Regions from separate parts of the Homo sapiens genome. Here all the other regions are linked to region 1. The links come from fine-mapping of genetic effects on gene expression. A gene starts in region 1. Each other region holds a variant in brackets. All regions are shown on one strand. Distances are between the middles of the regions.

Evidence for each region. PIP is the estimated chance that this variant, and not a neighbour inherited with it, causes the effect.
Region 2: its variant is the best candidate, but not a certain one, in a credible set for the expression of KAZN in whole blood (INTERVAL, PIP 0.56).
Region 3: its variant is fine-mapped to the expression of KAZN in whole blood (INTERVAL, PIP 0.90).

The regions. Positions count from the first base shown.
Region 1 is chr1:14,597,464-14,600,221 of GRCh38, forward strand. KAZN (kazrin, periplakin interacting protein) reads left to right here and starts at 1,222. Exons shown (of 15, transcript NM_201628.3): 1 at 1,222-1,760. The coding sequence starts at 1,535. RefSeq lists a silencer at 1,889-2,048.
Region 2 is chr1:14,809,545-14,812,302 of GRCh38, forward strand. The region is part of intron 1 of KAZN (kazrin, periplakin interacting protein); the gene reads left to right. Among named protein-coding and RNA genes, the nearest start is that of KAZN, 210 kb to the left of the region's middle. The variant GT/G (reference allele first, on the strand shown) is at 1,708.
Region 3 is chr1:14,868,642-14,871,399 of GRCh38, forward strand. All of the region lies in intron 1 of KAZN (kazrin, periplakin interacting protein), which reads left to right. Among named protein-coding and RNA genes, the nearest start is that of KAZN, 270 kb to the left of the region's middle. The variant T/C (reference allele first, on the strand shown) is at 998.

The sequences.
Region 1 (2,758 bases):
GCGGGCCCCTTAAGTAAATTGCTTAACCCTATGCAGAGCCTCAGTTTCCTTATCCCTAAAATGGGAATAATAATCCTCACTCACAAGAGATAAGAATGCATATAAAAGCACTCTACACGCAGTTTTTGCTTGGTTCTTATGGGCTTCCTGTAAGAACCTGAAGGGTGGGCAGCCTCATTTTTCCTCGCAGCACCCCACTGGCTTCTGCAATCTGCTCTTTGCTGCTCTCCGGAGGTTGACTGAGCTGGAATGATGGCGCCCTGTTGACCAGAGGGTTGCTGGCTGTTTTAAATTGTCCTATTTGCATGGAATGAAGTTTGCTATGGTAACAAGGTCTGGTGGCTGGAATCCAGGGCCCCAGTGAAAAATGCAAAGCCTGTGGTCTGGGAGAGAAAGAGGAGCTGGAGAGGGCATATCAACGTCAGGTTACCTCAGTTCTTCTGTGAAGAGGGGATGGGTAAACTGAGGCAGCAGGGCTCAACTCTTCTGCTCCCAGTAGAAGAAAGGGAAGAAGCCCCATCGACGCCTTCCTTCTTATCTCTCAACCTCATCTCTGTCCCCGCCAATATTCAGCCCGGCTAAGAAGCTTAGGAGCTGGCTAAGGCTGCTCCTCCACCTGGATGCACACACAGGGCTAGGGCTGTGGAGAGGCGGGAGCACCAGCGGCCCACGCCGAGGAAGATAGGCGCTCCCTCCTGGGGTGGGCAGCGCAGGTCTGGCCTGCGGGTGGGGGGTGGAGAGTGAGAGGCACGCGGGGCACCAGCTCAGCTCCCCTCTGGGGATTTCGTACTCGCAGTTTAAGGAACCGGTGGAGCACGAACTCCACTCCTGAGCTGGCGCAAGCGTCTCCCTTCCATGGAGATCCACCCCGGCTCCCCTCTGAGGCCCCCTTTCCAAGCACCCTCTCTTCCGAGCACCCAGCACCTCCCCAACCTTAGCACGGCTCGGGGCACCAGTTCTCCAGGGCGGGGGCTGCCCCACCGCTCAAGGGAGGGGACAGAGGGCCGGCCTCGGTCCAGGCGACCCCTGCCCCTCGCCAGGGGCGCCACCTTGGCCCCCTCCCGACTGCCGTCCGCCGCCTCCGCCCCCCCGGGGGGTGTGTCTCCGAAGTACGGGGGCGCGGGAGGCCAAGGGTGCCCCCAGCCTCCGACCGAGACCCCCTCCCGAGCCGGCGGCGAATGGTAGGCTCCATTTAAAGAGTGCCTGGTGGCGCGCGGTGTCCTTCTTGGAGCAGCTCTCGGCGCCCGCCCGCCGGGGTCTCGGCGATCGCTGCTCCTCCTCCTCCTTCTCCTCCTCTTTTTTCTCCTCCGCCTCCTCCCCCCGCCGCCTCGCCACCGCCGCGGCTAGGGCTGGAGGCGCCGCTGTCATTCCTGTGCCGGAGGAACCGGCGCTGCCGGTGCCTGGGGGTCGGGGCGCGGGCGAAGCCGGGCCGCGGAGGACACAACAGGTAGAGCCGGGGGTGCCCGGCCGCGCGCCCCCCGCGCATCATGCAGCTCTTTGTCACCTCTCTCGCCCCCAGGCCAAAATCCTGAGCATGATGGAAGACAATAAGCAGCTCGCGCTCCGCATCGATGGGGCGGTCCAGTCGGCCAGCCAGGAGGTGACCAACCTGCGAGCCGAACTCACGGCCACCAACCGGAGACTGGCGGAACTGAGCGGCGGCGGCGGCCCCGGCCCGGGCCCGGGAGCCGCGGCCAGCGCCTCGGCGGCGGGGGACTCGGCGGCGACGAACATGGAGAACCCCCAGCTTGGAGCGCAAGGTAGGATCGCCCCGGCGCCCAGGGCGGAGGAAGGCGAGCAGAGCACGCCCGGCCTCGGAGGTGGCCGGGGACCCGGGGTCCCCCACACCCGGGGCGAAATCGCTTTGCATTCTGGCTTGTAACCCTTTCCGCCCGGCGGTGGCCACCGCTGCTCTCCGGCTGGGAGTTGCAGGCTGCTGTCATTCACGAAAACCCGAGCGCAGTGTGCACGGGGTCACACGGTCACACCGGCCCCGGCCAGCCTGAGCGAGGCGCAGCCGGCGGGTCCCTTCCGGCATCAGAAAGTGCCCTTTCCGTGGCACCAGCCCCCTAGCTCCGTGCAAACTTTTCATGCCGGGGCCTTTTCCCCACCCCCCGCAGGGGTGAATGGCACAGTTCCCCCCACTTCCTTAGGCTCCTTCCCAGAGAGAGCTCCGGGCTCTGCCGCCGTGGTTGGGATAGAGGATTGCACTGCTGTGCACTTTTCTCCGCGGATGCCAAATCCCTTGGCTCAGTTGCATCTGGACTTTATTTTCTTCTCATTTGAGGTCTCTCAGGCATTGGAATCTATAGATGCAACAGTAGATGCTCAGCTCAGCAGGGAGTTTAAATTTCCGCAAATATAAACACCGAGAGCACTTTCCAGGGGGATACTGTAGACCTCAAAGGTTGAGCGGTAGAGAAATGAAGGCTTAGGGTGGTGGGCTGCAGGGAGCCCGTTTGAAGGGACTCTGCGGTTTAGAGAAGAGGAAGAAAAAGACAGTTGGTTTGTGTTCACATTGACAGAGATTAAGCTCTGAAACCCCCTGCAAGACATAAAGGCGGATGGGGCATTCCCTAAAATGTACTGTTTGGTTTCTGTGACTTAGAAAGTAAAAGGGTAAGCAGGCTTTGGGGGATTTTTTTTTTCTTTTTGCCTAATTGCCCTTTAAGAAACAGTATCACTGGTTATTAATATCATTTGAATTGCAAATTAAACTGCTGAAATCCAGAACAGGACAGAAACAAATCTCCAGTCC
Region 2 (2,758 bases), 210 kb after region 1:
ACAGTGTGTTATTGAATTCCAAGTGCCCTATTCTGAAAGTATTTCCGAATACAATTGTCTCCAGAGCTGGCTAGAGCCAGAATCCTATTTGGTTTGATTTTTTAAAAATTTCTGGTAGGCAGAATAAGCTTTACTGGAGTAACCCCAGCCTTGGAGGGCTAGGGTATGAAGCCAGCATGTACAGTGCTCGCCGTGTGGGTGGTAGGCATTGCTGCATGCCTGTAGACCCGGGAGATGGCAGTGGCTGGGAGGCTTGCAGTCTGATGTCACCCCATCACAGGCCACAGTGCTGGTGGGTCTATAAGCCAGGTCCCTTCCACCAGGGGCATTTCCACCACCATCAACTCTGCCAAGGATCATGAAAAACATAATACAAGGTAACGGGCTAGATCAGGATTTCTCAGCCTCAGAACTGTTGACATTTGGGGCTGGATACTCTTTGTTTTCGGAGGCTGTCTTGTGCATTGCAGGTGCATTATAGATGTTTAGCAGGATTCCTGGCCTGTACCCTACTAGACCCCACTAGCCACCACTTCCTTACCCAGTAATAATAATGTCCCTAGACATTAATTATCAATGATAATCACTAATCATTATTGATCAATATTCATGATTATTAATCAGCCCCAGTTGAGAACTTTTGGGTTCAAGAATCATGGACTGGGAGGCCGAGGTACCTTAGAGGGCAGGACCTTCCCTGAACACCTTTCCTAAGGGAGCACCGCACCCCCATCACCTCATCTCTCTCCAACCCCGTACCTTGCTTGCTTTTCTTCAGAACTCTTATCATCCACTGGATTTCTCTTATTTTGTTTATTTGATTGTCTGTTGGCTGATTTTCTGCTCAGGGGCCTGGACCAGATCTGCCTTCCTCGTTGTGGCATCCTCAGCCCCCAGCCATTGTTTGGCACAGTGTGAGGTTTAGCAAATGTCAGCAGAATGAATGAATCTCAAAGTTCCACCAGAGATTCCCAAAAGGAATACTTTAATGAGTGTCCACTCCGCTCTAGACACTCTGATGGACATGACCCCCTCCCACCCCACATTAGCTCATTCAGTCTTGAAAATAAGGAAGCTAAGGCACAGAAAAGTCTAGTACCAAACTGCTAGCAAATGATAGAGGCAGGATGTGAACTCAGGCCTGCCGGATTCCAGGGTGTGGCTTGTTGGGGACACCAGGCTGCTTTCCCAAGGACATGAGGGTGGCCTAGAGGAGCGGCCTCCAGACCTCTGACTGGGGGCATCCTGCAAGAAAGCCGAGTCATGAGAAAACCAGCCTCCCAGGGTGGGGACAGGCCAGGTCCAGCCGTAGCCTGCCAGCCCAAATGGGCCAGGAAGTCAGTGCTGGGGCCTTGGCACTGCCTGGAGCACCATGGCCAGCTTGTCCTTCTGAGGGCATAGGACATCCAAGGCCCTAGACAACTTCCGTCTTTTCAGATTTGGAGATTTATGGACCAACTGCTCTTTGGTGGCCTCCAAAATGTTTCTTTTTCTTTGCAAAGGGAAACCACAATCCAAATCTTTCAACCATTTCCCCCCTCAAAGCAACATGAGAAATGTGGTCCAGAGGAATTCCTCGCCCTCCCCCAACCGACAGCACAATTGTCAGAAAACTCTGAGATGAAACAGGATTTTTGTGGTGCTTTTTCTTCCCCACCCTGTCCCCTCACAGTAATTAGCACGTCAGCTTTCTCTTGTGGTATTTAT[GT/G]GTTTATATAACACAGTTCATTGTTCCCAAATGTTAGTCAACTCCAACTATAAATCAAGCCCCAAATCTTGAATCTCATTCAAACTCACAAGTTGATGCTACACGAATAAATCATAAGAGGGTGGGAATGTTATAAAAGTAGAAAACAATTCAGACAAACGCTGTAAATACAGCTCTTGGAACTACTTAGTGAATACGTTAAAACAATTAAATGCCTTGTGCAACATCGAATAGTAGATCAGTATTTTAAATGAAGCCATTTGAAAGTTTCTTTGGCTAAGAATCATTAATATTTTCAGTGCTTTACAGTTCGCAAAGATTTTTTTGCACATTGTTTCATTTACTCTCTTACAACCTTCTTTTAATGTAGGGAAGCAAGCTATTTTACTAAATTCTATCAATTCTAAAGCACACGTTGTTCTCATTTTTTGTCTCTGAAACAAGAATGCATCTTCATATTAAAGGCATGGTAGTTGAATTGGCAGCTTTGTTTTCTTAGTGATACATCAAATGATAGTGCATGTTATAAATGATGGTGTCCTAGATTTAATGAAATGCATATTATGATGATCCCTGTTGCACGGGGGAAATGACAAACCCTGAGATGTTACAGACTTGGCCCAAGGTCACGCAGTGAGTAAATGGAAGAATGAAAACTTGAACCTGAGAAGGGCAAGGTCTTCAAAATCCATCTAAGTACCCCAAGGATGGTCCTGAACTGCCCTCTGCAGATGGTGATCCCGATAACTGAAGAACTTTTGTTTTTCTGGAAAGAGGATGTAAGTTTGGAGCCAGAGCAGAACTGCTTAAGATGTTAGAAGGGACACCGAGAGCTGTCACATCTTTCCCCACCTTTCCCTTGAAATGTTCAGCACCTCCTCAGAATATTGAGGTAGCATTGCTTTGAAGGGTGTCCCAGGATTAGTCTCTTCTGGCAGGCCAGCCCTCTGTGACTACCTTGAGCAAATTTGATGACACCCTGCCTCCAGGTGGACTCAGTCCCACACCATGACACGGGGCTCACAGAGAGGAGCTCAGACTACATTTCAA
Region 3 (2,758 bases), 270 kb after region 1:
CTCCTCTGCAGCTGTCTTCATCTCTGCATGTCCTTCCAGAAATGGGGCCAAGAGGAGCCAGGCATGGTGGCGTGTGCCTGTAGTCCCAGCTACTAGGGAGGCTGGGGTGGGGGGATCTCTTGAGCCCAGGAACTCAAGGCTGCAGTGAGCTATGATCATGCCACTGCACTCCAGCCTGCACAACAGAATGAGACCCCAACTCTAAAAAACTTAATAGCTAAGTAAAAATAATAATAAATAATCCGAAATGGGGCCAAGATAAGAGAACTGAATCGGGGTTGGCGGGGGGGTGCATCTGTTCTACTCGGTGATTTTTCCCTTGTTGATCTGTGTCCCCCACTCCAGCTTGGGGGCCCCGGTGGTATTGTGGGTACCCACAAAATGCTAGTCAGGATGCCAGATTCCCCTTCTCTAGTTCCTGCTAGCACCTTGGGATGTGTCCTAGTGAGAACCGCAGACTTGCCAAAGCCATGACAGCTGGATCCTATTCTAGCCGCAGGTTGGGATCGAAGTTTAGTATTCCAGCTTCCACCATCCCCTTCCTGCCTGTCTTGACCCTTCCAGTTTGCTCCTTTAAATCTCCACTTCCCTTTTGCACAGTCTCAAGCTCTTCCAGGTTCTGAGGATTTTTTCTCACTTCTCAGGGTGAGCTCGCGACCTTTCATTGCCTTCCCTGTGTGAGCACAATTCAGGGGTCAGACTCTGGACTCTTTATGGAGCCTCAACGCAGGGGCTGTGACTGTATATTCTGCACAGCGAGGCTCTAATTACAGGCTGCATGCTGGAGACTAGTCATTTTGTGAGTCATTAGGATGTGTGGCTGGGGCTTTATAATATCTTTTGATGAGTTCTGTAATTTTTATATCTTCACCTATGCTAGCATTTTCAGTGAAGCAGAACAGGACAGTAGGGCTGGCAGATGTCACAGCCCCTGGGCTCTTTCTGGATCGGAATTGAAAGGGTCTTCTCCTCTGCACTCTGAGGAGAGAAATATTGA[T/C]TCTGATTGGGTTCGAGGGGTTGAAAGCTGGCATGTGCCTCGTCTCTTGCTAATCAATATTCCAAAGCAGTGGTTGTGGGTAATGTTTGAGTACTTGCTTCTGTTCTCCTTCGTGTTGGCAAATTACAAGCTTTCAGGTGAGACTCCCTTCATTTTGCAGTGGCTGCGAGGAGCAGGTTTAATTAGCGCACAGACCTGCTGGAAAAATCCAGTGTTATTAAAAGCCTTGTTCCATGTGGTGGCTGCTGGGTTGTACCGGTCTCCTGCCCTCAGCCCCTTCCTTCCTGAAGCCACCCAACACCCACCCCGGCATTACTTTGCCATTAATCCCAAGGTATCCGGGGAAAAATGACAGAGAGGTAAGAAAAATCACATGGAAGGTAGAATGTCCAGATTTTTCCCCAATGAGATGAAAAACTCAGGGTCTCATCTCTGTGGAAAATCCCAGTATCTGTCCAGGAGCACTGGGCCTGGCCTTGACCTTGGCTTTGACCTTCAGACGACTGCTGGGGAGATTCCTTGAACATGGAGTCTAGGGCCTGGATACTGGGAAAAATCAGACCCTTCTACTCAAAACCAAAAGACCACAGGCTTTGGAGTTAAGACAGGGTGAAGGGTGAGTCCCAGCTCTGCTCCTCACTTGCTGTGTGACTTTGAACAAATGGCTTAACTTCTCTGGCCCTGTTTCCTCAACTGTTTTTTGTTTTTTGTGTGTTTGTATTGAGACAGAGTTTTGCTCTGTCGCCCAGGCTGGAGTGCAATGGCACAATCTTGGCTCATTGCAACCTCCACCTCCTGGGTACGAGTGATTCTCCCACCTCAGCCTCCAAGTAGCTGGGATTACAGGCATGCACTACCACACTGGCTAATTTTTGTATTTTTAGTAGAGACGCGGTTTCTCCATGTTGGCCAGGCTACTCTCAAACTCCTGACCTCAAGTGATCTGCCCACCTTGGCTTCCCAAAGTGCTGGGATTACAGGTGTGAGCCCCCAGGCCCGGTTTTCCTCATCTGTTAAATGGGGTTCACGACCGTGACTCCCTCATGAGCTGCTGTGATGCTTCATGAGATGAGGAGCTTCACATCTGGCACAATTAATGGCCCATGGTCAGCTCTCAATCGGGGGCATTTGTTGTGAAGGTTGTGTGGCACTATGTGTCACTGTGGCCACACTGTTCTCATTATTACATATATGAATCTTACTCCACAACCAAGTGTGCAAGAAATCTCACCAGGCCCAACCCTACCAGAATGATAAGAAATTAAGACTCATCATATGAATGGCCGCCTCCACACCTGCCTGGGGTCACACAATAACCCAGAAGGCTTGTCTGATATCTGGAGAATGAGGAAGGGGCCTGGAGGCTTCCATCCTCCATGGTCTCAGCTCACCTGTTCTTTGTCCAGGCCCACCTGATCTCCAAGAGGTGGACAGTGCTGTTGCCTGAGCCCAGGTGTGTCTTCAGTGAAGTCAGAAGCTCCAGTGTTCAAGGTCCAGACCCTCCACCACCACACGGCACCTATGTGCCCTCTTTAGTCCTGCACCTCCTCACGATGCTGGAACAGTCCAGGCACAGTTGTCCTGCAGACCTCTCCTTCCTAGGTTTGGGGAATTGCCCAATCAGCTCTCTTCTAGAATGTTCCACAGCCTCTTCCCCAATTCCTTCCATGAACCTTCTGCTTGAGGAACAAGAGTCAAGAGGGAGGTTTGCTTCCTGGTAAAGCTCTGGTTTCCTTTTGCATACAAATTGCCCTGCAGCAA